Regions from separate parts of the Homo sapiens genome. Here all the other regions are reported to be linked to region 3. Evidence: microRNA targets listed by miRTarBase, many of them from high-throughput screens and not tested one by one. Region 3 holds a microRNA gene; each other region holds the end of a gene's coding sequence.

Region 1 (5,102 bases), not on the chromosome of region 3:
TACACCTTGGGAAGAGGATACCTTCTTGCCTGGGGAGACCAGCTGGGTGCACATTAATAGTATTCTGTGTGCTCCCAGGTTGGTGTGGCACAGGTACCCTTGCACCTGAAGCCCACTAGCTTGGCAGCTCACACAGCTGCCTTCCGAGTGACTGGGTTTGCCTGACCCTTGCTGAGGTCCAGCTGTTTATGCTGTTCACCAATCGCCACAGACGCTTTATTGGCTGGGGAGAGTGAAGAGCAAAATAAGGTCAGGAGGAGGAAGAAAAGGCAGTTTTTGCCCCATTAATAAACCCTGTGTGCCAAACTTCACCCTGATCCTCTCTCTTAAGCAGCTTTGCCCTTCTGCAAATACTGGGTGTGGGAGAAGCAGAAGGAAGGTTGTGCAGTGCAAGGTTGACACGGTGAGATCAATATTTGAGAGATGATATTTAACTGGCCAAAACAAAACAAAACAACAAAAAAAACAAAAACAGTGTTTTCTCCTGACCATCTCTCTTAAGCTACCTTGATCACGGTCTTGGCAAAGATACAGGCACCTGGGTATTCACAGGCCCTGATGAGGAAATCGGAGATGGAAACCATTACGCAGAATGCACCAAGCGATTGGCTCTGGCCATTTCAAATCTTTCTGTAGGCTGAGCCTTACCAGTGATTTAAGATGAAGTACAATGCTTTTTATTACACACCCAATTGTTAATGAGAGGAAATGCAATCAGCAACTCCTTTCCACACTCTACATGGAATCAAGGAGACTGCTGAGTCCAGAAAAGATGCAGCCATTGATGGAGCCCAGGAAACTTCTCCCCACCCCCTCTGCCTGCCCCCTACCACCAATCCTCCTCTTGGGTGTGGGGAAGAAAGAGAGAGAAGAGTTGCAAATATGATGAGAGTATCATGTCTGAGAATCCACTGTTGCCACAGGGTCACTTGCAGCAAAGGCCTGGGGCTGAAATCTTCACTGAACAGCATTTAACTCTTCCAAGTGTTGCATTTTCTGGCTGATCTGGCTCATGTGAGAGGAGGACACTCTCTTCGTACACTTTCTTCTCAGGTGAAGCAGACAGAGAAAAAAGGTTGAAGGGGCGTAGGGGAGTAGATGGGAAGAGGAACAGAAACAAAGAGAAGGCAGGCAGGAGGCCCAAATCTTCCAGTGTATACATTCTTGTGTTTTCTTTTTCTTGTCCCAGAGGCTATACAGAGGGAACTCTGTCTCCTCCTAAGCATATTGGGGCTGGGCTGCTCTGGCCAGGTGCTTGGCATTCCTGCAGTTAACAGGGAGACACTGGGCACTGGGCTTGAAGCTGCATCCCCCATACCCTAGAAGTGGGTCTCTCCCAGCAGGCTATACAGGGAAACTAGTTCTTCTGCTTAATGGCAAAGCAAGAGAGATTCTGGCAAAACACTAAATATATTTATAAGTCACCTTTGTCTGGAACCAATGGGAAAAAACTAGGTGCAGAGGTGAAAGGAGGAGAGGAGGGGAGGTTTAAAAGTTCCAATCATTCACAAAAGATAGAAGACATCTTCTGATAGCAGCACTGAAGCAGTCAGTTGTGCTGAGTAGACCGTCCTGGGCCGACTGCAGACCAACTGTGTCCCAACAGGAGTCTCAAAGCCCTGCTCCTCGGCTAGTCCAGGGAAACTGGGCAGTAGTTTGATTGTTACTGTTGTTGCTCATCCTGGTATTGGCAGATACGTTAAATACCGCAACTTTAATGGGTCCTGTGTGAAAACAGAGCAAATAGTCATTAGCCCCTTTTTTGATATTTCTTACTTGCTTGAAGACAAAAGAACATTCACTTAGCTGCCAATGGGGAAAAGGCTTAGGGGTCCTTCCTAATGCCTGCTCTCTGCCTATGCCATGCAGGAGCTTCTGTCAAAGGTGACCTGGCCTGATGGGGGAAGTTATACTAAAGGCAGGGCTTGCTGACATGCTCAGGGCTGTGGTGTTCAAGCAGAGTGACTCTGATGTCTTGAGGCTGAGAGTGCCCACGGTTGGCATAGCTTTCACTTGCCCTGTAGAATGGCAGGGCAGGGGTGGGGGATGGTCTGTGGGCCCTGCCTTTTGAGTGGCCATGAGCATGGCGGTGCCAGTAACAGAAGTGGGGGAATCAAGGAAAGCTGGCCTGGCTGTGTGGCTGCAGGGTACCAGCAGTGTAAAGGAGGGGACAGTGCAGTTGAGGATGTGAGCACTAGAAGTGCTCTTGCTATCTTCAAGGACAGCTGTGTGGATGGCAGCTGGAAATGTGGCCTGGAGATTAAGGCAGAGGCTTGGACTGGAGACAGAAATTTGAGTCTTCTACAATGAGATGAGATCTGAAGCCTTGGGAATAGAGAAGGCAGCCTAAGAAGGAACTCAGATAAGGAAGAAAAGCCAGAGACAGGCCGGGTGCGGTGGCTCACACCTGTAATCCCAGTAACTTTGGGAGGCCAAGGGAGGTGGATCACTTGAGCTCAGGAGTTCGAGACCAGCCTGGGCAACATGGTGAAACTCCATCTCTCCAAAAAAAAAAAAAAAATACAAACAATTAGCTGGTCATGGTGTTGTGTGCCCGCGGTACTCAGGAGGCTGAGGCAGGAGAATCACTTGAGCCCAGGAGGTGGAGGTTGCAATGAGCTGACATTGTGCCACTGCACTCCAGCTTGGGTGACAGGAGTGAAGCCCTGTTTCAAGAAATAAAATAAAATAAAATAAAATGAAATAAAATAAAATAAAATAAAAATAATAAGAAAAGCCAGAAACAGACTCTTGGGAGTGAGGGGGAAAGAAGCACAAATAATCAGAGAGTCAGGAAGAATATTAAAAATGGCAAAGTAACACGGAAGTCTAAGGAAGAGAAAATTTTGGGCAAAGGAGGGGGTAGGTATATGGAGATTGCAATATTAATACTCATGACCAGTTTTTCCTGAGGGCATATTATGTATTCGCCACTGTGCTAAGCACTAGGAATTTTCCATGCAGTATCTCCACACAGCCTTCACAGGGTTCCGTGAGGTGAGTGCTGCCCCTCACGTTACTCATCAAGAGATTCAGGGTCTGGGAAGTTACTTGTCTAAGGGCACACAGCCTGTGCGACCTGGCTGAGGAACGACGAACCGTGTCCTCTGTGAGAGAAAGAGAAGCTGAGGACAGCCCAGCTGGGCGTGAATCACTGTCCTCAGCGGAACACTGCAAAGAGAGATGCAGAAACGTGTAGCGAACATGTACTTCCGCCACGAGAACTGAGGCACACGTGGCAAATCCTGACAGCAACGCTCCTCAGCAGCTAGGGCAGCCTTCTCAAACTGGTAACAACCTAGTGTATTCGAACTGGTTAGAACAGCAGGTATGATCTGAATATACCACAATATGTATGGACCACCTGGGTATTTTAGGATCTTCCCCTGCCTGAGAGAGAGGTTGGAGACTTGAGTGGGAGGACATGTGGAGGTCAGAGGTCAAAAGACAGGTCCTCTTTTTGGAGGGTTGAGGAATAGGGATAGGGATATAAAAGCTACTTTTTATATTCCTTTTAAAATCTGCCCTTTTATTTATATGTCAGTGTGAACTTTCACCAAGAGATGTTTCCATTCACACATTAGACATCAGACTGTTTACTTGGCTTGAAAGGTCTCTATTGTAGGTATTGTTTGATCTGGGAACTTAAACATCACAGGCCTTTGGGTCATTACAGTACTTAGTTTTCAAACTGATTCAAATCTCATTTTATTTTCATAACAGTACTACTAGATAACTAGGGCAGGAATGACTAGGCTTACCACACAAGTAGGACCCTAGAATCATCTAGAACTGAGGCTGGCTACCTTGGTGAAAGGCACTGTCCACACTGTGGCAGCTTCAGCCCTGTCTCACATTGTCTGCTTCCTCGGCTTTACAGGAGTTGGTGACCCAAACGGCAGGAGAAAGTTCCATGAACTAGCAACACCTTACAGCTAATATCCCGTCTCCTACCCACAGTGTTATGTACATAATCGATTTCGATACCTGGGCAAGTATGAGGTCAGTGTATGGTTATTTATCTGGAGATGTAGGTGTATGTTCGAGAAGGGGAACGGGGGGGTTCAGCTTGGGCAGCTGGATCATTTAGGAAGTCCCAGATGAGGATTGTGTCATCATGTGAACTACTGACAATCTGGAATTCATCAAACTGTAGTCGAAAAACTCTTCCGGAATGCTCCTAAAGAAGTAGAAACAAAAAGGGTAGGAACTTGAACTACTCAAAATCAATAGGACACAAATTCAGCAACATGTCAAAAGGAGTCTACGGAAAGGCTATGGTTTGCTGTTATAAAGAGGCCAGGCGCAGTGGCTCACACCTGTAATCCCAGCACTTTGGGAGCCTGAGGCATGCGGATCACGAGGTCAGGAGATCGAGACCATCCTGGCTAACACAGTGAAACCCCATCTCTATAAAAATACAAAAAGTTAGCCGGGCTGGTGGCATGTGCCTATAGTCCCAGCTACTTGGGAGGCTGAGGCAGAAGAATTGCTTGAACCTGGGAGGTGGAGGTTGCAGTGAGCCGAGATCACTCCACTGCACTCCAGCCTGGGCAACAGAGTGAGACTCTGTCTAAAAAAAAAATAAAATAAAAATAAATAAATTAAAAAAATAGAGAAAATTTACTTTGGCTAAAGGCAGCATGGAAAAGTCAAATACTAGGCAGCTGTAAACAAAGCAATACTCTTTGGCCAAGACATGCTAAATAGCATGCTATTAATAGTTTCTCATGGCCAACCCTTTTTGGCGTAGGGTGGATGAGAGCATTCCTTACTACCTCCCTGGTTTTTATCTTCTAAGTTCCTTCTACAATCAGAGGTCAAGGATTGGTGAGCAATAAGAAGCAGTATGCTGATAAATGTTTATCAACCAAACTTTGCTACTTTGTAAAACCATCGGTAGATTTCCACGGCATTAAAAACTCCTATCATGGCCAATTATAAGCTAGTCATAGTCAACCAGCTGGCAAAATTCATGAATATCTAATAGTTGGCTCTCATAAGTGAGTATGAGCCTGTTCTAGCACACCACTGGCAGTTACCACCCTGATGAAGATGTAGAATGTTCCCAGCATACTGGAAAACAATCTCACACCCCTTAC
Region 2 (5,102 bases), not on the chromosome of region 3:
AGGTAGAGGCCAGGCCCGGCGGGGCGCCAGAGGGCGGCTGGCAGGCTGGTGGGCTCCCTGCTAAAGGCTGGGGAGGACCACGGTCTATAGGTGCTCCTCAGACTTGTCGGTTCTGTTCTCCCCTGGGGGACCAGGCCTGGCCATGAATCAGCCCCAGGAAGGTTCTAATGGCAAGGAGTCCCCCAGAAGCGCTGGTCTGATGAATGCCGTAGGCACAGTGCACACCTACCAGCCCTGCCTGGAGTTCAGCATGTCTGGGCCGGTGCACCCTGGGCCCTGGACTCAGTCTGGCCTGCCCAGAGCAGCTCTGCAGGTGTCTCTTCCCACTGCCCAGCACAGACAGGGATGGGACATTAGTTTCCCTTCAAGTTTAGCGGTTTTCACACAAAACCACACCACCACTCAATTTAGCCCTCACAGAGTACCCCCTACCTGCGTGTCACCTGGAGGGGATACTTTGATACAAGTGTGGCCATAGAGCAGCAGGACTGATTTCCTCTAGAGTCAAGACCAGCTGCCTCATGGACACAAACTGCATCTTAGCGTCCCTAGATTCTGCTCAACCAGGCACCCGGCAGAGGGCAGGGACTCAGGAAACACGTGGCCCCACCTAGCACCTCCTCCACTGTCAGGCCCAAGGAGGCCCCAGGTGCCCTCAGTTTCTGGTTGGCGGATGAGATGCCTTGAAGGATGAGCACCACAGCCAACCCCATGACAGGCAAGCAGACTCACCTGGCGGTCACACCACCTCCTAGCTTGGCTTTCAGGTGTGGCATTTTTGGTGACTCCTCACCCACCTCACCCTCAACCTCAACCACATTTAAAGAGCCATAGTTGAGCAGCACTGGGCGTTGGGACTTTATCAGGCTGGCTCTATAGCCAAAAGGGTGTCAGGATTTGGGCAGATTAAGAAGGGCAGAGTCATTTTTATGGGTAAGGAGGTGGCTGGAAGGGTGCGTCTTTGCCCTCAGCAGTGTGTACCCACTCGTTGGAGAGGCAGAGCAGAACAGACGGGCCTAAACTGCCTGTCCTATCCCTATCACCCTCTTTCCTCCCAGAGAAGGAACTGAAGTTTCTTCGGCAAGAGAACCGGAAGAACATGCTGCTCTCTGTGGCCATCTTTATCCTCCTGACGCTCGTCTATGCCTACTGGACCATGTGAGCCTGGCACTTCCCCACAACCAGCACAGGCTTCCACTTGGCCCCTTGATCAGGATCAAGCAGGCACTTCAAGCCTCAATAGGACCAAGGTGCTGGGGTGTTCCCCTCCCAACCTAGTGTTCAAGCATGGCTTCCTGGCGGCCCAGGCCTTGCCTCCCTGGCCTGCTGGGGGGTTCCGGGTCTCCAGAAGGACATGGTGCTGGTCCCTCCCTTAGCCCAAGGGAGAGGCAATAAAGAACACAAAGCTGTTCCCGTCTGCTGAGTAAATGTCATGGTCTGACTAGCGGAGGGTGGACGGTGGGGGCAGGAAGAGGCAGCAGCAGCAGAGGCGGCACTCAGGAATCAAGGAAGAAGAGATGTTCAAGGGAAAGCTCTGGATTACAATTCAGAATAGAGGAGAAGGCCCCCAGCTCGAGTGGGAAGGAGACAGTGGGAAGCACTTTCCAAGCCAAATAGTGGGAGTTACTTCCAGGGCTCGGGCACTGCTGGGGTTGAGCAGCAGACATTGTGCCACCTGTCCATCCCCCCACCACACACTGTCATGCCCTCCAGTCAGTGCCATTGCTTGTAATTATGGCAGAAAAAAATGCAGTCTGTGCAGCGAAGGGCGGCTTGGGGACTTGAAGTGGTCATGTGGCGATCCCAGGGGAGTGCGGAGTTAATCCATCTTCGACAGGCAGGCAAGGCTGGGGAGGCTGTGAGTGGGCAGGAAGAGTCATGGTAATGACCAGACAGACTTACGGTGACAGTGGCCAGTAAATCAGGTAGGGTTTGTAGTGAGAAGTAGGGGTGGGGCTGATCAGAGGGGGAGTTGTGGCAGGAGCAGCAAACTCAGACATCTCCCTTACCCTTCCACCCCCCAACTCTAAAACTCCTAGCTTTGGAATAAGGAGGGGAGCAGGTGGGAGGCTACAGCAAGGCAGAACAGAGGAAGGGCGTGGATGGCCGAGATGAAACCAGTTAAGTAGGAAAAACAAGGGATGGGGTTGCCCAGGGAACTAAGGCCATACACAAAGGACTCTTGGGGCCAAAGTGAGGAAGTCCAGCAAAGTGAAGGCGGACTTTGGGGGGCAACCAGCACCAGGGCGATGACTAACTGGTGGAGAAACCAGCCGGGAACAGAGAGGGAGGTGCCTGCAGCATCTGCATCCCCCACCCCCAAGCACAGTCCCGTGCAGGCAGAACCAGCCCTCCTTGGAGGGGAGGCAGGCTAGGGTCAGTGAAACCATCTATCTCTCCCTCCCTCTTTCGCCCAAGTCTAGTGACACTAATTGGTCTGACGCCTCTGTTATTTTAGTCACACAGACTGATCCTGGATTGTCACAGTGCCACCATGGAGTGAGCTGTGTGATTTATGTAAGGGGGGAAGGTGCCTCTCTGCCCTTCCGGGGCTGTGGGTTCATTCATTCTGCAGTCCCTGCTTGTAACAGGAGCTGCACAATTTCCCCCAACTCTTCTTTGAGCCCCCTCTTGAGCAGCAAGCAGCAGCCCTGGGAGCCCTGCAGGTGCCCAAGAGCTTGAACAGGCTCCGATTAAACAAACCCTCTTTTCTCTCCTCTGCTTTGAGTAGAGCTGCTTCCCCTTCACCTCTGGCTCAAGCTGTTTCATCCAAGCCAGTCTCAGATCACAAAGCACTGAGGACAAACAGCAGCAGCCCCAACACAGAGCCACACAGGCATTAAAAATATGTTTATCTTTAATGATCCAAGATTCTGCAAGACACACTGATATACCCAGAATTGGGTGGAAATACAGCATCTCAGCAGTGCTACTGCCAGCCTGGGGGTGGGGAGCTGGATGCTGGCTGAAGGACCCCCATGGTGAAGTCGATTCCAACCTCACGGGAGCCTCAGTGCCCTATCTCCATGGAAACCAGCCTGGCACTGGGATGGGGCCCTAGGGAGCCTGCATGAACATCTCTGAGAGGTATTTCCCATTAAAAACAACCACAGGTGCCCACCCCCACCCCAAGCTACTGCCCAGCTCCCCCTCCTCTCTGTGTTGTCGGCCAAGATAAAGGAAATGGGAGTGACCACTTAACGACAAACAAAAGCAGATTGTACCTCCTATTAGGGAAGAAAAAGGAAGGGAAAGGGTAGTAAGGGAGCTGCACTTCAAGCTCAGAATTCTGCCAAGACCCTAGAGCGGCTATGGCAGACAGCGGTGCATGACTGCCAGAGGGCAGCGCTACCCAAACCCCTGGAGGTACCCTTTGTTACTGCTGGGGCCCCTGCTGCTGTGGGGGAAAGACGGGTCTTCAAGGCTGCTTCCTGCCATCTAGCGCTGCCCAATGTTTGGACCAAAAGGGGATGGCACCTAGGATGGCTCTACAACTCCATACTCAGTACGAAAAGAGGGCTCCCAGGATCTCAATGTGGTATCAGGGATGAGAGTTTGCCCAAACTCCCTCCTTCCCACCCTGCTGGACTGTCAGAGCTCTGGGCTAGGAAGAACTCCAGGGAAGGCCAGGATGAGTGGGGGAAGGAGACAAGAAAATGGTCTCCAATTTGGCATCAAAACAGAGTAAGTTCAAAGAAACAAAACCTTGATTTTTTTATAGCAGGTTCTCCTGGCCAGCTCATGACAGCAGGTCTCCACCCACTCAGGGATGGCCCAATAAAAAGTTGGGCAAAGCAAGGGCATGGCTACCCTCAGGGCAGTGCATGGAACTCAGAAAAGTGAGTCTACAGGATGCAGGAGAGAACAGCAGAGCCCACAGCTCTGCCACTCTGATATGTCCTCCATCAGTCCCACGTGCCCTAGGCACTGACCTCATACCTGCCTCAGGAGCAGCTTCCTTCAGGCTGAGTCCTGGCAGGGGAAAGTTCCCAGGCAGGTGTCCCAGAAGGAACATGAGTGTTCTCTGCAGGGCCCTGCCTGAGCTCTTCAGGGGATGGAGAGGAGGCCACCCACTCCTCATGCCAGGTGCAATGCTCCCCAGTCCCTTTTCAAGAGGGGGAAGAAGCCAGCACTGTGGGCCCCAGGTGGCCCCATCTCAGGAATGACAGGGCATTCTGCAGGGGTGGCACATTCTGAGGCTCTTAGGCCCTGTGCATCTGGATGAAGGAGAGGACGTCCTCCTTGGACAGCTTGTCCTGGTCCTGGGGCTTCTGGGAGTCATGCACACGAATGCCATCCCCCCACTCCCAGAAGAGCCGGCCATAGTAGCAAATGCTGGGGAGGAGAGGGATGGGAAAGAGGTCAGGACTGCACCCAGATGGCACAGGGTCATGTGTTCTTAAGGGTGTGGGGCGGAGGGGTCTGTCAATGACTTTAGTTGAGGTTCTTCCCCCGGCAGGCAAAAGGTACCCGGTAGGCCCTAACTCCCCTGCCTCCCAGAACCAACTTTTCCCAACAAACAGCTGTTGCTGCTAATTGCATCCAACTGGATTCCTACAGTGACTGATATTCCTGACTTATCTGTCTGTGCTTCTCTAATATACAGTATTAGTAGTGTGGTGACAGAAAATGTCAGTGGCTAATTACAGGCACATTAGGGCTGCTGGGGAAGCCTATGACCAACAGTCTGACTAATGGACACCGGGTCCTAATGAGGGACAGCTGGGACCTTGAGTGCCAAGGGGCAGGGCTGTGGGCCCTCAGCAGGTTCCCACCATCAGGCCAGTGTTGGAATGTCACCGAAACGTGGCTGCTCCATGGGGTGGATACGCTGCCCAGATGGGCCTTCACAGCCAGGCCCGTAACCATTAGCAGGTCCAGGCATCGTGCTTCCCTCACCAGCTCTACCCAGGTCCAGCCACACCTGCAGGGGGCTGCCATCCCCACAAGTATTCTCAGGCCTGTGCTCAGGGGAACCCCTGCATGGGCAACAGTCTCAGGACCCAGGGTGTGCCCCCAAGACAGCTGGCTGGCATCCTGCAGGAGTACTTGAGGCTGCTAAGGAGGGCAGGCTTGGAGGAGAGCTACTTACTGAAATGGGG
Region 3 (5,102 bases):
CCGTGCACCCCCGGAGGCGGCAGCGGCGGTGAGTGCTCCCCTTCTTCCCGCCTGGCACCTTCCGCCAGCCAAGGCAGGGATCGCGGCAGGTGGGTGCCCAAGCCCCCAGGGCCGAAGGGGTGTGGGGCGGCTGTCTGCGGGGTGGATGGGAACGGGAGAGGGGAGGTGGCGGCGGGGGAGCGCGCGGTTCTCTCGGGACTCGGCGCGAGACGCTTGTCTGGGCTGCGATTGCCGCCGCTGCCGCCACCCCGGCTCCCCCTCGGACCCCTCCCCCGCTCCCCAGAGGGGCGTGTGAAGCCGGGAGGTAGGAAGGGGGCGAGGCCGCCCCCAGCCTCCCTAGTGCCTGGGCTTGGAAATTGACGAGGCGGTGGAGCGTCCGCGTCCCCGCCCCCACCCCGGAAAGCCCGCTCGGGAAACTGACTCGCTGCGTGACCCCGATCTCAATGCCGCGCGCGGAGCAGGCCGGCCGCGCCCGCCGCTCCACGTGCGCCCGAGCCCCGCTGGCATGGGCGGCGGCGCCTGCGGGGGCCGGGCCCCGGGGATCCCGGACTAGCCGGGAACCACCGTCCCCAGAGAGTTACCGCCGCCCCCTAAAGTTGTCAGCTCCCTCCCCCCGAGAAGCAGGCAGCCCTGGCGCGTTGGCTTTAGCTTCTGCAGGACGGGGGCAAAAAAACTAGGTTCCGGGGTGCGGAGCGGGGTGTCTGTGCCCGAGACAACACCAAGTTAGGAAAAAGAAGTTAGAAAAAAAAAGAAAAAGGCATTTTGATTTGGGGGTGGGGGGAGTGGCGTTTCTGGTTTCTCTTTGCTTCCAATCCCCACCAAGCGGAGCGTTGGAATGCGCCGCTTATGTCCTCTGAGGACACATCCATATTTATAATTTATTTTTAGGAGAAGTTGTGAAAAAGGGAGGGGGGTTAAAATGAGGAGAAAAGGTGCGTGGGGGAGTGGCCTTTCCAGAACCTAGAGGCTAATTAAGCTATTAAAATGGAAATCATTTCCCCCAACTTGGGCGCGCAGCAAATTTGACTTTAATGAGAGACGATTAAGGACACAAATAACCAAACTTTATTTAGCTGGAGATGGGGTGGGGGGAACTGTACGAGGCACCTCGGACACCCGATTTATCCGCTGCTAAGGGACGTTTGGGGCACCCCTCGTGTTGTCCGGGAAGCTTTTAGGCCTGTTTGCTGGGCGAGATTGGTGATTGCTCCGGGAGGGAAGAGACACCCCGGGATCAAGCGATCCTCTTGCCCTCAGCCATGGTGTGGCAAATGTCCCCTCCTCCCACAGCGACCCCCTGGCATTTTGGTGAGATGAACCGCCGCCCTGAGGGAACACCCAGTAACGATTCCTTCAGTGATCCCGGTTCTCCAAACTCTTGCCTCAAAGGCGGCCTGCCCCGGTGCTGTCAGCCGTGAATGGGGACTCACTTCTTGGGAAAAGAGGCTTTTGGAGGCTGTGGTCTCAGAATCGGGGTTTTGAGGGCGAGATGAGTTTATGTTTTATCCAACTGGCCCTCAAAGTCCCGCTTTTGGGGTCATTCTGGACAGCGAGGGACTCAGGCCCCGGCAGTCTCGGGAGGGTGAGGGCAGAGAGCTACCACCCCCAGGGAGCGCGTCCAAAACCCGGCTGGCGGGGGGGCGGGGAAAGAGGGGGAGGTTTGCTACTTTCCATAAAACTAAAAGGTCCCTTCGAGGGCGGTATTCTTATAAGTGTGTGTTCTCAGTTTGCCGAACCTACTGTGTTTTCCAAGGGCTTCTCTCCTTGGGAGGCCGAAAAACGATACAAGGAGGAGAAAGTACATTCCCCCTGACCACCCCCACAGTGGTTTAAGGGACAGTATTGGATTGGAAAGGAATTAGTAGGATGTCAATTGTGGCAAAGTGTTTGAAGCCCCCAAATAAGGCGCTCCTGAAATGATGAATTGTAACGACATTAGATTTGTCTTTACGTTTGCTAAATTAGGAGAAACCAGCTGTTTGCTTCCACCTGGAATTGCAACATTTCTTTGCAACTCTTTGCTGTTGAAGGCGTTCTTTTTGTTCTGTTTTGTTTTGTTTGTTTGTTTGTTTGTTTTTTGGGGACAGAATCTCGCTCTGTCCAGGCTCTGACCAGGCTGGAGTGCAGTGGCGCGATCTTGGCTCACTGCAACCTCTGCTTCCCGGGTTCAGGCGATTCTCCTGCCTCAGCCTCCCGAGTAGCTGGGATTACAGGCGCCCGCCACCACGCCCGGCTAATTTTTTTGTATTTTTAGTAGAGACGGGGTTTCACCGTGTTAGCCAGGATGGTCTCGATCTCCTGACCTCGTGATCCGCCCACCTCAGCCTCCCAAAGTGCTGGGATTACAGGCATGAGCCACTGCACCCAGCCAGGCGTTTTATAGAAGGCTGGATAATACGTTCAGGGGAAGTCTCTAAAGCAAGGGTAGTGTGTATAAATCCCCGTCGCAGAACATTAACCTTCAGTTGTGTGTACACACACACACACACACACCCTATATAGTTGTAACCTATATAGACTTTCACACATCCTAAGTTATTTGCAAGTCTAGATTTAAATTAAGTCTACATAGCAGGGAATAGAAAAGTGAGCTGTACCTGGAAAAAACCTTTGAACACAGCGTTCTTGATACAAGATTTAGGATTTGAAAGACATGGCACATGTACACACAGATGACATTTGTGCTGCCTTGGCAAAAACAGTTCTTTACTTCCAGAGTTCTTTCTCTTTAGTATGGGACACGATGAAACAGCACAATTTTCAGGAGTCCACAATTCCAGCGAGGCGCGTGGATGGGAAATTGTCACGTTGTGAATTGTGTTTGTGCTTTGCTAAATCGCCACCCGGAGCTGACTGTCAAATCCTATTTGCTTTGCTAAATAAGGATATCTCATCAAATTAGCCTTTAATGATACTTCTACAAATAGGGTGTTTTACATGAATTAACGAGGCCGGAACACTGACTGTTTCTCCAAGATACTGAGCTATAATGGAGGCGACGAAGCCGAATGTTAAAATTACTGAATTGTTAAGTGTGCAAAATCAGACAGAATTTAGTGCTAAATGTGAAACAATTTCTGCTTTAATGGTGAGCATTCGCAACAGCACAAGCATTACTTATATTCAGCCGTCTGAAACTGTGCATGTAATTATGAATACATTTAACAAACTTTAACCCCCCTCTGAGTCTGGAAACAGTCTAGTATGGTGAAGAGATTATAAATCAGCATTTTGCAGTGAGAAGTCATCATTAATTCAGCAAAGAATCACAGCTTCTTTTCAGATCCTTCCCACCACCCTCCTACACACCCCCCTCAACCAATAAGGAAAAAAAAAATTCAGCATGGAACTGCTGGATACACTGAATATATTTTGGCTTTTCTCTTTTTGCCTCTGTGTGAGAAACTTCATTAAGCAGTTGCTGTTCCCTCCCCACCCCCGCTAACCCCCAAAGAAGTGTGGATTTAAGAAAAAAAAAAACAAAAAACAAGCAACTTTGAATTTTGTTCTTAGCAATCCCCAAGCCATAGCTGATCTCAGAGAGGCAAAAAAGATGTTTCAATAGAAAAGAATACGGTATGGCCAGGAGTAAAATATTTAGAGGTGGTTCTGCAATGAATATGATACTTCCTTAAAAATAAAATATATGTTGGTGATTCAAACCAATGAAAGTTGGAAAAGTCCCTCCAAGGGAACACTCTCTCTGTTTCCCTTCCCAGCAACCCCCCAACTTAACGTTATGAACAGAAAGATGGAAATTCTTGCCAGATCAACTATAGCCTCCTAACGATCAGCTCACCCTCCTTTAATTTTGATTGTGGAGCAAATACAGCTATTTTAGCCATGAGGATAAAAATGAGTGCAGTGAAAAGTTAAGGCAAACTTGGTACTTAAAATCACTCACCAGAATAAAGTGCGTGTACAAACAAAACATTGCTGATCAGTTACTTTAAGCAGGCATTTTCTTTCTCGCCTGAGCACCCCAAACACAGAAAAATGTAGAGTTCTTTTTGCTTCTTGTATCTGGAGCAGGTGAAAATAAACCCTGACGCTCACAAACATGATATAAACAACATACTTTTCAGGCCTAGTAGCCAAGCCGACTTTTCAGGGAAAGAGATGGACGTTGAAAGAATTTAGGAGTGGACTTGGGGTTCCCTCCATCACCCCATGCCCAGCTGACCCCTTCTGCCCTTCTCATGACCTCTTTTCAAAGCAGCCAGTGTTCAGATGCTGCCTTTCCAGCGTCCCCAGTTGTAGGGGACATATGCACATATTTACCAAGCTTTAAAATAAGGTTTCTGATTTTATATCATCCGTCTGAGTTTACGGAACCACAAAGCAAACTTCTTTCTCCGTGTCCCTGAAATGCTGCCCCACTGCAGCAAAGGGGACTTCGCCTGGGCAGGGAGAGGAGTTAGTGGCTGGTTGCGCCTAAGGTTAGCTGTGCGGTGTGGTATGACAGTTTTCTCAGAGATGTGCAAAAATCTAGGCTCTCTTGCTGGAATCGTGTGAGATCAGTGCTGGGCCTGTTGGCATTGGCATTTGTGCCCAAGACAGCCCAGACCTCTGCCAGCCGAGGCCCAGATGTGGCCTCAGAGCCACTACTGGTGCCCAGACAAGTCCAGACAGGTGCCTGGGGGTCTTTCCTCCCGAGACGAAGCCTGCAGCAGTTCAGCCAGAAGATGGGGTATTTGGCTCTCAAAGTCAGCCTCCCCAGAGACTCTGCAGGGTTTAATAGCCTGGTGACCCTGTGGGCTCTGGCGAGGGCAGAACCCCACTTTGCTTTCCAAATGCTCAAAGGGGAACAGATGAGGCTATCCCACAGGCTCAGAGCAAATCTGTCCTGTGTGAGTGCAAACGTGGTTCTAGAAGATTCAGAGGCAAAGCTGAGCTTTTGCAGCCCAGCCCCAAGCCCTTGCTCTCGAGCACCAGGGCTGCGATCCTTCGACTTGGGGTGGGCCTAGGAGGCGTAGCTCCCAGCCAGCAAGACAACACATAACACATCTGAGTTACCGTGCATGTGTTTGCTGGTCTCTTCTCCAGCTCCGTGAGGCCTCCCACCTGGGAGCTGAGCCTTTTGCTTTGATCAGGCTGGGAGG
Region 4 (5,102 bases), not on the chromosome of region 3:
TGTGGTGCTCGGGTGTGTTGGAAGGAAATGGTAATTGAATGAGTGCTCATTTTCCAAGACTTTGGCCCCACCCCTAATATAATGTCCATGTTCCTGGAGCTGAGGATGCCTTCAGCCTAGGCTTGAGGACTCAAGGTGTGTACTAGAACCAGACAGACATTCTCCAATATCCCACTCTAGGGATCTTACTCCAATGAGAAGCAGAGAAATGCTAGCCCCGGGAGAAGACCTAGGAAAAGTGTAACAAGAGGCACCATCTGTCACTGAGCCCCTCTCTCTATGCCAGGCTCCGAGCCAGGTGCTTTACATTATGGGAGCTACTCCTGAACAACTGTGTGAGATACTGGTATCCCTTTACAGATAAGTGGTCAAGTGACTGCCCAAGGGTGTAGTCATTAAGTAGAGGAGTTGCCCTTTAAAACCAGGAGTAATTCCTGAGCGTGTGCAAGCTGGAGATGTGATTCCTGAAGACTGGCTCGCAGAGATGGGTCATGAGGCAGAACCAAGACCTACTCCCCTACTTCCCTGTTCAGTTTGTGTGGCCTCTCCCACTTCTAGTCCCTTCTCTTTCCTGGGAGGGACCCATGGGGGCTAGACAGAGGGCTGTTCCTAGTAGGATAGAGAGGTCCTGCAGCAGCGCCTCTTCCTCACTGCTTATCTTTCTGATCCAGGTTCCCGAGGCATGCCAGCTAGCACCTGACCTACAAGATTCCAGCTGTTTAACTGCCATCACAAAGGCTCATGATGTGTTGACAGTATTTCTGCCTGCTGCTCTGAAAATTCAAGGAAATAAATACCTGACATTTATTGAATGCCAGAAGCTGTTCTAAGAACTTTCTATGTATTATCTATTTTAGTCATTATAATATCCTTATGAAATAGGCACTTTTATCCCCATTTTACAGATGAATAAAATAAGGCACAGAAGGGTTAAGCAACTTTCACAGGTAGAAAGCTGCACAGCCAGGATTTAAGCCCAAGCTCTTAACCACTGCACTACATCAATGCAGCAAAGGCTGAATGAACCAGAGTATTTGATTTACTTAGCTCTTATGCTGGAAAGATGGTGAGGCTTTTGCTCATGGTCTGTATTCAAGCACAAATACCAAAATCAAGGACACCTTTGCATTGGTGCTCCATAGGAGGTTTCCTTTTTTGTTGTTTAGAGAGAAGGTCTTACTCTGTTGCCCTGGCTGGAGTGCAGTGGTGCGATCACAGCTCACTGCAGCCTTGACCTCCAGAGCTCAAGCAATCCTCCACCTCAGCCTCCTGAGTAGCTGGGACTATAGGTGCGCACTTCCACACCCAGCTAATTTTTAATTTTTTTTTTTTTGTAGAGACCGTCTCCCTATATTGCCCAGGTTGGTCTAGAATTCCTAGGGCTCAAGTGATCCTCCCGCCTTGGCCTATTGGGATTACAGATATGAGCCATGGCACCCAACCTCAGAAGAGGCGCTTTTCTTGAGTTCTGGAAGGGGATAGGAATTAATGTTTTGTTTGTTTGTTTGTTTTTTACTCGTCACAGAAAAGGTTCAAAGAGTAAGATAAGCAACGTCTCATAATGCTGTAGTCTAATGGACAAGGGCCCTAGCCATCTGTGCCTGGATGACTCTTCCTCCCAATTTTTAAGTGTCAAAAGATAATTTAGAATCTGGCATTCTGCATTAGAAATCTGAACCAGTGGAGCTGTGTGCTGATTTTCATCAGCTTAAGTTGTCTTTATTGTCAGTGGCTTCCTTTCCCCACAGCAGCTTTATGGAGGCACGTGCCCAGGCATATGAGGAGCTTCTGTCCTTTAGTGTATGTACACCCACAATGCTGCAGAGAAGAGAATCAGCATACTGTTGGGACACAGCAGGTACCACTGCCTTCTGAAGTTTCTAGAGGTGCTATGCCTTCATTGTTTTCCTGCACATGAACATTAACATCCACATCAGGATCTGGAAACCTTTACAGAAGCTGAAGTTTTAAAAAGAAAATGAATGGGATTTTATTCAAGATAAGGAAAGGATAAGAGTGAATCATCAAATGAAACCATGAGGCCACTTCACAAATATTTTATCAAAAAACTCACCTGAGAAAACTCAAAGAATCACAGTAATAAGCTGTCTATGCCATATTTTTTTTTTCCTTTTTTGAAAATGCCAAGAAGCTACTACTAAGAATGTATTCAAGAGACGGAAGTTCCAAGATTCATCACAGGGTCAGGTGGGCTCAACTTAGTTTCCTGGGCCCTCTATAACACTTCATGTTCAGAATTGTCTCCAAATAAAAGCAATTTAAGGGAACATTCAATATGGGTGTCTTTGCTGTGCTTGCAGTCTTAATTCTGTGGACACTGATATTCTATCAATGGAAAATTGAGCCTTTAGTGAACTTGAATACCCTGTTCCCCAATCACTGCCCAGAGAGCAGTTTCTGAGCAGCCAACATGTCAGAGGCAGGAAAACAGCAGCTAAAAGGCAAAGGAGAAAAATGGAAGACACCTGCCTTTACACGTGTATTTTAAGCTAAATAACCATGATAAAATATCACCAACACCCATTTTTTGTAACTTCTTAATTGTCCCACATCAAAGATAAGTATGGACAACTGTAATTGGTTCTTATATATCCCTAAATTCCTAATTGAAATCAATTCCAATAAATCGTTGGTGCTCAGTAGAAAAATGCAAAATTTAAATATATATATTCAGTAGAAGTTACCTTCATAACTTGTGGGGCATTATCAAAATATAATTGGAAACCCCTCTTTGTAACCAACTAACCAAATGATCTTTTCTTAAAGGCACAAATTAAAAGGTGGCAAAACAACCATATATTTAGTGTGTGGGATCACATTCTCCTAAAGAGCATCAGGAAATGTAGGTAGAAGTCAATGTTGTAGCCTAGGTTAGAAGGCCCTGCTTGCTGGGAGTTAACTCTGGTTATTGGATTGTGGGGAGGTGTGGCAGGGAAGGTGGTCAGGGGAACACGGGCACTCCAGAAGCTCGGAGCAGCAGCTCATCAGCTGTGAGGCACCGTCAGCATCCTTGCGTCCTGTGTGGCTGTGAGGCACTGTCAGCATCCTCGCGTCCTGTGCGGCTGTGAGGCACTGTCAGCATCCTCGCGTCCTGTGCGGCTGTGAGGCACTGTCAGCATCCTCGCGTCCTGTGCGGCTGTGAGGCACTGTCAGCATCCTCGCGTCCTGTGCGGCTGTGAGGCACTGTCAGCATCCTCGCGTCCTGTGCGGCTGTGAGGCACCGTCAGCATCCTCGCGTCCTGTGCGGCTGTGAGGCACTGTCAGCATCCTCGCGTCCTGTGCGGCTGTGAGGCACTGTCAGCATCCTCGCGTCCTGTGCGGCTGTGAGGCACTGTCAGCATCCTCGCGTCCTGTGTGGCTGTGAGGCACCGTCAGCATCCTCGCGTCCTGTGCGGCTGTGAGGCACCGTCAGCATCCTCGCGTCCTGTGTGGCTGTGAGGCACCGTCAGCATCCTCGCGTCCTGTGTGGCTGTGAGGCACCGTCAGCATCCTCGGTCCTGTGCGGCTGTGAGGCACCGTCAGCATCCTCGCGTCCTGTGTGGCTGTGAGGCACCGTCAGCATCCTCGGTCCTGTGCGGCTGTGAGGCACCGTCAGCATCCTCGCGTCCTGTGTGGCTGTGAGGCACTGTCAGCATCCTCGCGTCCTGTGTGGCTGTGAGGCACCGTCAGCATCCTCGCGTCCTGTGTGGCTGTGAGGCACCGTCAGCATCCTCGGTCCTGTGCGGCTGTGAGGCACTGTCAGCATCCTCGCATCCTGTGCAGCTGGGCCAGGACAAACTGGCTGAACTGCAGCTCTGCTTGCAGCTTGCTAGAAATACAACTTGGTAACAACAGGAGATTGTGGACACACTATTTTTCGTTAGTTTATTACAAAACTACAGATACAATACACAAAATTCTAATTCCGAAATCCTTCTACATTTTTTTTTTCTGAGACTAAATGCCCTCAAAGCCCGTCTGCTTGGCCTGTATTACAACCTGACTCCTCGGCTCCTGGATGCACAGGTCAGATGTTCCAACAACCCTGACCATGGCCAGTGCTATGGAGTCACTCCAAAGGTGGTTGAGCCCTCTGTGAAAATTTAAATGGCTGCTAAGTCATTCTAAATAAATAGTGAACGGATTGTTTCTGCCCCTAAGATGAAATCCCACAGATCTTATGCTCAAGCTCAGGTCTTCCTACTGCCGCCTTCGACATCTAGAAAGTATGGTGGGATCTTCACTGATTTGTTAACCCTGGGAGTGCCCCTTGTGATCCAGATGAGTCAAAACAAACGGCCAGGATCTCTTCTAAAAAGCCCATGATGGCCCTTCTGGCTGTGTCTCCAGTTGGTGCCTGGATGCTGCCCATGTGTTTAAGGGCCATTCTGACCATCTGGTCTCTTTCCTGTGGGCTGTGGGGTGCTCCAGTGTCATCTCCCTCTGCTCCTGATTTTAAAAACTGTAGAATATAGGACTGGACCATATTCCCACTCAGTTCAAGGGTTTCTTTCATACAAGGGAGGTCCGAGGCACTGGCCAAGCTCAAGAGGTGAATCAGTGCCTGGCAGATTTGGGTCCGTAGGCTGACACAGTACTTGAATTCCAAAAAGTCTATGGTGTCTTCACTCTTCTGTAAAGCGGTGACCAATGCATTCCAGATCCGAGCATACTGGTCAACAGACCCGTACTGCTCTCTCTTCCCCGGGACGGAAAGGGCAGCTGCAGATCTGATGCGCACTTTGAAGTTCTTGCATGATGTCACGACCGATGTCAGGGCATTGTAGGCCTGGGAGGTCCATGGGGCTGTCCCTAGAAAGAATCCACAGTCACTAAAACAAATGCAGGCTTAGAACTAGGTGGGGTGAGAGGGAGAGGGGTGGAAGGAAGCTTAAACACTAGTGCTCAAGACACTCATTTTATGTGTTCACTTCATTCTCACAATCATCCTGTAAGACAAGGGTGGTGACTGACTGTAGGATCCTAGGTAAGTGGCCAGGTGCCAATCCCCAAACCTCCCTCTTTCCCTACCTCAGCCTGCCACACGCTTAGAGCCTCTGCTACCCAATATAAAGCCTTTGGTGACTCAGAAAAAGGCTTCT
Region 5 (5,102 bases), not on the chromosome of region 3:
CTGATACTGATTTCAGAAAAAGCCAACTGAATCCTGCTTAGGGCAGTTTTTCTGCAGAATAATATTTGTTCATTCCTGTTTTATTAGGAAAGACAAATGGCAGTGACCAGAAGAGTGTTTCATCTCATACAGAAAGTCAGATCAACAAAGAGTCCAAGAAAAATGCGACCCAGCTAGACCATTTGATCCCAGGCTTAGCACACGATTGCATGGCATCCCCTTTAGCCACTTCAACCACTGCAGACATCCAGGAAGCTGGACTCTCTCCTCAGTCCCTCCAGACTTCTGGCCACCACAGAATGAAAACCCCATTTTCAACTGAGCTATCTTTGCTCCAGCCTGATACTCCAGACTGTGCTGGAGATAGTCATACCCCACTGGCTTTTTCCTTCACCGAGGACTTGGAAAGTTCTTGTTTGCTAGACCGAAAGGAAGAAAAAGGGGATTCTGCCAGGAAATGGGAATGGCTTCATGAGTCTAAGAAGAACTATCAGAGTATGGAGAAACACACCAAACTACCTGGGGACAAATGCTGTCAGCCCTTAGGCAAGACTAAATTGGAAAGAAAGGTGTCTGCCAAAGAAAACAGGCAGGCCCCTGTCCTCCTTCAAACATACAGGGAATCCTGGAATGGAGAAAACATAGAATCAGTGAAACAAAGCCGTAGTCCAGTTTCTGTGTTTTCCTGGGACAATGAAAAGAATGACAAGGACTCCTGGAGTCAACTTTTCACTGAAGATTCTCAAGGCCAGCGGGTCATTGCCCACAACACTAGAGCTCCTTTTCAAGATGTAACCAATAACTGGAATTGGGACTTAGGGCCGTTTCCTAACAGTCCTTGGGCTCAGTGCCAGGAGGATGGGCCAACTCAAAATCTGAAGCCTGATTTGCTCTTTACCCAGGACTCTGAAGGTAATCAAGTTATCAGACACCAATTCTAAATGTTTGAAGCTTTGTTTCTAAAAGTACCTTGAAATGATAGAGATGTAGGAAAATATAGTTGTGGGTGGAGAGAGGAGTGAGTTTGTTTAGGTGGGAAGGTGGCATGGGATGAAGTTGTCATTACTGAGCATCTTCTCTGTGTAAATAAAGGGCAGTACCATTGTTAAGACAGTGGGATTGGCATCATGGCTTTCCCTCAGGAAGGTGGTGGCTGGTAAATTCCCTGAATGAGTCTATGATGAACACTGAGGCAGCACAGTGGGTATTTATCTCTATGAAAGTGCCTTTTACTCAGCCTGCACAGAGCCATCTCTTTGCCCTTCCAGATGTCTGACTGGGACCTTGCTTATGGATGTGTTTTTTTTTTTTTTTTTTTGAGATGGAGTCTCGCTCTGTTGCCAGGCTGGAGTGCAGTGGTGCGACCTCAGCTCACTGCACCCTCTGTCTCCCGGATTCAAGCGATTCTCCTGCCTCAGCCTCCCGAATAGCAGGGACTACAGGCATGCGCCACCACGCCCAGCTAATTTTTTTTGGATTTTTAGTAGAGACGAGGTTTCACCATATTAGCCAGGATGGTCTCCATCTCCTGACCTCCTGATCCGCCCACCTCAGCCTCCCAAAGTGCTGAGATTACAGGCATAAGCCACCGCGCCCAGCCAGATGTGTGAGCTTTTAATCTCTGGCTGATCTTAACCCACATCAGCCTAAGCTTGGGATGATTACTCTTGACCCTTTTTTTTCAGTGATTAGCAAATCTCCCCACAACCCAGGTGTGGAGAGAAGAGAGGTAGAATGGTGCTAGTTTCCTATTTTATTTTTGTGGTAACTGTACAGCACTTTAAAGTTATATACTCTATGTTTAAATATCTCCCTTAAAAAGCCTGAGCTGTACAACAATCTGGATGTGACTCTGTTACCCTTTTCCCACAAGATAGGAGGGAATCCCCTTTGTAAAACTATGAATCCAAATAAATGTTTACAAAGTGGCTCTTGTGATAATTGGTAATTAAACCATTACCAATTTTATTTTTGAAAAGGCAACACTGTAATAGTATATGCTGTCATTGCCCTGAGCCTGATCTGAACCAGAGTCTAGTTTGACCTGTCTTCTACCCAAGGCATTATTCCTTGTTGTTGATGTGGTATCTAAGAGGCTTAAACAACCTCTAAGGGACAAACTTGCAAGGTTATAAGAGAACTGCTTCTTTTTTTTTTTTTAACTTAAATTTTATTTTTTTGAGACACGGTCTCGCTCTCTTGCCCAGGCTGGAGTGTGGTGGCATGAACACGGTTCACTGCAGCCTGGACCTCCTGGGCGCAAGTGATTCTCCCACCTCAGCCTCCCGAGTAGCTGAACTATAGGCACATGCCACCATGCCCAGCTAATTATTTTTAAAATATTTTGTAGAGATGAGGTCTTGCTTTGTTGCCCAGGCTGATCTTGAACTCCCAAAGTGCTGTGATTAGAGGTGTGAGCCACTGTGCCTGGCCTAATTTAAATGTTAAATTCTACTTTTATCGTGTATGTCATCTCTCCAGTCATTTTCCTGGAAGACCTGCTTTTAAGAATGTATGGGGCTTAGTGCGGTGGCTCATGTCTGTAATCTCAACGCTCTGGGAGGCTGAGGTGGGAGGTTTGCTTGAGACCAGGAGTTTAAGACCAGCCTGGGCAACATAGCAAGACCCCATCGCTACAAAAAAATTTAAAAATTTCCTGGGTGTGGTGGTGCATACCTGTAGTCCCAGCTACTCAGGAGGCTAAGGTGGGAGGCTCACTTGAGCCCAGGAGTTTGGAGGCTGCAGTTAGCTAATGATCCCACCACTGCACTCCGGCATGACAGAGCTAGATACTGTTTCTAAAAAAAAGAAAAAGAGTATAGGGCAAAATCTCTACAGAAAGGGGGAAGAAACCCCCTAGAAGGGCAGGACCTTATAAGGAAAGAGGAGAAGCCAGTAGCCTGTTTAAGTTCATACACCTTAAAATTAACAATAATCCTATGCCCCTGAAGGATACTGGGTAATCGCAACTCAAGAGATGGACACAGCAAATGCATTCTCTCTCCAAGTCCTTCCTTTAATGTCAGGTAGTGCTTCAACCCAAACACAAGCAGTATACATACCATAGAGAAAGGGACCTGAGGGCATCTGAGTCATGCATGGTGTGGTACATACAAACCTTGGCCCAGCCCAAAGGAGCAGTCAAGGGCCTGGAAGAAAGATGGTTTGCTCTTTCCCCCTCCTCCTCTCTCTTTCCTACCGGGCTTAAAGTCCGTGGAAGAGAAAGTTTTTAATCAGTGGAACTGATAAGGCCTCAGGGCCGTGGAGGGTAGATTTGGTTGTTCAGTAATATAAAATGTGTTTAAGAAAAAAAACAGCCCAGGCTTCCCAGCAGTAGCCCATGTGTTGGCTGGTTCAGCAGCCTGACCTCTACATCTAGACAAGGAAGTGAGGAGGGTGATTGCTGGGCATTGGTGTAGGTTTATGACGGAGCAGCATAAGATTTTCCGTGCCCTGTGAACATGTATACAAACATTCATAGCCCCTTCCCCTCAGCCCTGCTCTGCTGCAAGGAAGCTGCTGAGTGAGTGACAGCTGGGCACAAAGTGTCTTGTGAGACCAGCTATAGGGTCTAATGCAGTGAAGTCAGTCATTTAGGACCTATTTTCACACAGGGGCAAGGAAAAACCAGAAACAACTTCTCTCTTACCCTTTAAACTAAGATACTTCATTCTACACGATTACCTGAAACAAATGTCTCAGGTCAAATCACAAGCCTTAGCTTCTGCTAGGGTTTGAAGTCTGGGAAATATATAATCCAGCTCTTCTCTTTCAGTCCAAGCTCTAGCTTGTCAGCAAGACTGTTGCAGAAGATCTATCCTTAAGAGGCAGAAACATCTGCGGTGAGGAAGGCAGCTATTGAAGGTATTCCAGGAGCATGAGACTGAGTTTGCAGAGCTGAGGGTTGTCAATTTCCTTTTCTACTGATATCTTCTTCCTTTAGAGCAAACTTCCTCCTTAGGACCTCAGAGATAAGCACAGCAGGGTCTTCCTCCTTCAATAAACTCCGGTTCCTAGAGACACAATAATAGCTTGAGTACTTACTCTTTCCTGTGTAGTGCTGTATATCTTTTGAATACATTATCTCGTTGAATCCTCACAACAATCTTACGAGGTAGGTGCCATTACAATTCCCTTTCACAGATAAGGAAATTGAAGCACAGAAAGGTTATACAAGTTGCCCAAGGTCACTAGTCACTCAGCAAGTAAGCGGTGAATCCAGAGTTCAGAACCAAACTAGCTGGTTCCAGATCTCATCTATTAACTAGAATGCTTTACTATTTCCTGAAATAGCTATAAAGTATGGGCAAAGTAAAGGACCATCAGTCTGTTAGAGTTGGCCTCTGGTGGCTAAGCTTCTGCCTTCTGGCCCTGTTTTCTTAGTAGCATTTCCCCAGAGGGTCAGCAGGGGAAGTGACTGATGACTCTTGGCTATTCTGACCCTTGATAGTTCTGGAGAAAAGGTGTGCTTGGGATTTCCTACCACCGGGTCTCCCCTTCAGGGGAGATGATTTTTTATGAGAGCCAGAATTAGAGCAAAACATTCACATAAGAAACTCATGGGAACAAAACCAACTCCAGACTGAAGTAGGCCCAAGTTATCTGATACATCATATAAGAGGGTCCTAGATACCTGGAAAATAGTTGCTTGAAATCCTAGTGAACTTATATACATTCATCATGAAGGTGTTTTACTGGTGATTAAGCTAAATATAAGAGCCAAGACTGACTATTCAACCTTCAAAGCAAAAACAAGAGGGACTGCGTTTGGTTGGTGACATATCTGAACCTTTGCTGACTGGGGTACTTTCCCATTCTTATTCACTGACCCAGCTCCTTCTGATCTGAGGACACAAGTGGGAGGAGGGGGCTAGCAATAAGGGTCTTGAATCTAATTTGGTCCAAAAGGCAAGTAAGAGAAAGTTTGAGAGTCAACCTATAAAACATTTTGTTCAGAAGAAGACAGCTCAGAGAAGACCAAAAACAGCAGCAACTGAATTTGGGAATGTGGAAGACCAAAGAGATATGGGTGAGTATGACCAACCTGACTAGGGCCAGTGAAGGAAGGTTAAGAGTGACTTCCCTAAATGGGTCAACTGCCA

Evidence for each region. Region 3 holds the annotated microRNA hsa-miR-193b-3p (AACUGGCCCUCAAAGUCCCGCU, at 1,509-1,530, shown strand). A microRNA usually pairs through its seed, bases 2 to 8, with sites in the 3' UTR of a target mRNA and lowers its output. Matches are read on the target gene's strand: a 7mer-m8 pairs with bases 2 to 8, a 7mer-A1 pairs with bases 2 to 7 and ends in A, and an 8mer does both.
Region 1: the mRNA of BTRC is a reported target of hsa-miR-193b-3p. Seed matches in the 3' UTR shown: 7mer-m8 at 434-440.
Region 2: miRTarBase lists CMTR1 as a target of hsa-miR-193b-3p. The part of its 3' UTR that is shown has no 7-base or 8-base seed match.
Region 4: miRTarBase lists HEATR6 as a target of hsa-miR-193b-3p. The part of its 3' UTR that is shown has no 7-base or 8-base seed match.
Region 5: the mRNA of AUNIP is a reported target of hsa-miR-193b-3p. The part of its 3' UTR that is shown has no 7-base or 8-base seed match.

Annotation. Positions count from the first base shown.
Region 1 is chr10:101,549,777-101,554,878 of GRCh38, reverse strand. BTRC (beta-transducin repeat containing E3 ubiquitin protein ligase) reads right to left here. Exons shown (of 15, transcript NM_033637.4): 14 at 3,988-4,180; 15 at 1-1,724. The coding sequence ends at 4,019. Among named protein-coding and RNA genes, the nearest start is that of POLL, 36 kb to the left of the region's middle.
Region 2 is chr6:37,479,246-37,484,347 of GRCh38, reverse strand. It overlaps CMTR1 (cap methyltransferase 1), which reads right to left. Exons shown (of 24, transcript NM_015050.3): 23 at 5,093-5,102; 24 at 2,840-4,335. The coding sequence ends at 4,203. CCDC167 (coiled-coil domain containing 167) reads left to right here. Exons shown (of 4, transcript NM_138493.3): 4 at 1,059-1,410. The coding sequence ends at 1,162. Among named protein-coding and RNA genes, the nearest start is that of CCDC167, 18 kb to the left of the region's middle. RefSeq lists an enhancer at 3,165-3,865.
Region 3 is chr16:14,302,509-14,307,610 of GRCh38, forward strand. MIR193B (microRNA 193b) reads left to right here and starts at 1,459; the gene lies at 1,459-1,541. All of the region lies in intron 1 of MIR193BHG (MIR193b-365a host gene), which reads left to right. RefSeq lists silencers at 1-6, 291-451, 357-596, 1,550-1,599 and enhancers at 3,962-4,647, 4,648-5,102.
Region 4 is chr17:60,039,323-60,044,424 of GRCh38, forward strand. It overlaps HEATR6 (HEAT repeat containing 6), which reads right to left. Exons shown (of 20, transcript NM_022070.5): 20 at 1,686-4,812. The coding sequence ends at 4,241. It overlaps MIR4737 (microRNA 4737), which reads right to left and starts at 3,783; the gene lies at 3,703-3,783. RefSeq lists an enhancer at 546-840.
Region 5 is chr1:25,830,832-25,835,933 of GRCh38, reverse strand. AUNIP (aurora kinase A and ninein interacting protein) reads left to right here. Exons shown (of 3, transcript NM_024037.3): 3 at 88-1,928. The coding sequence ends at 941. It overlaps MTFR1L (mitochondrial fission regulator 1 like), which reads right to left. Exons shown (of 7, transcript NM_001099625.2): 7 at 2,996-4,013. The coding sequence ends at 3,908. Among named protein-coding and RNA genes, the nearest start is that of MTFR1L, 13 kb to the right of the region's middle.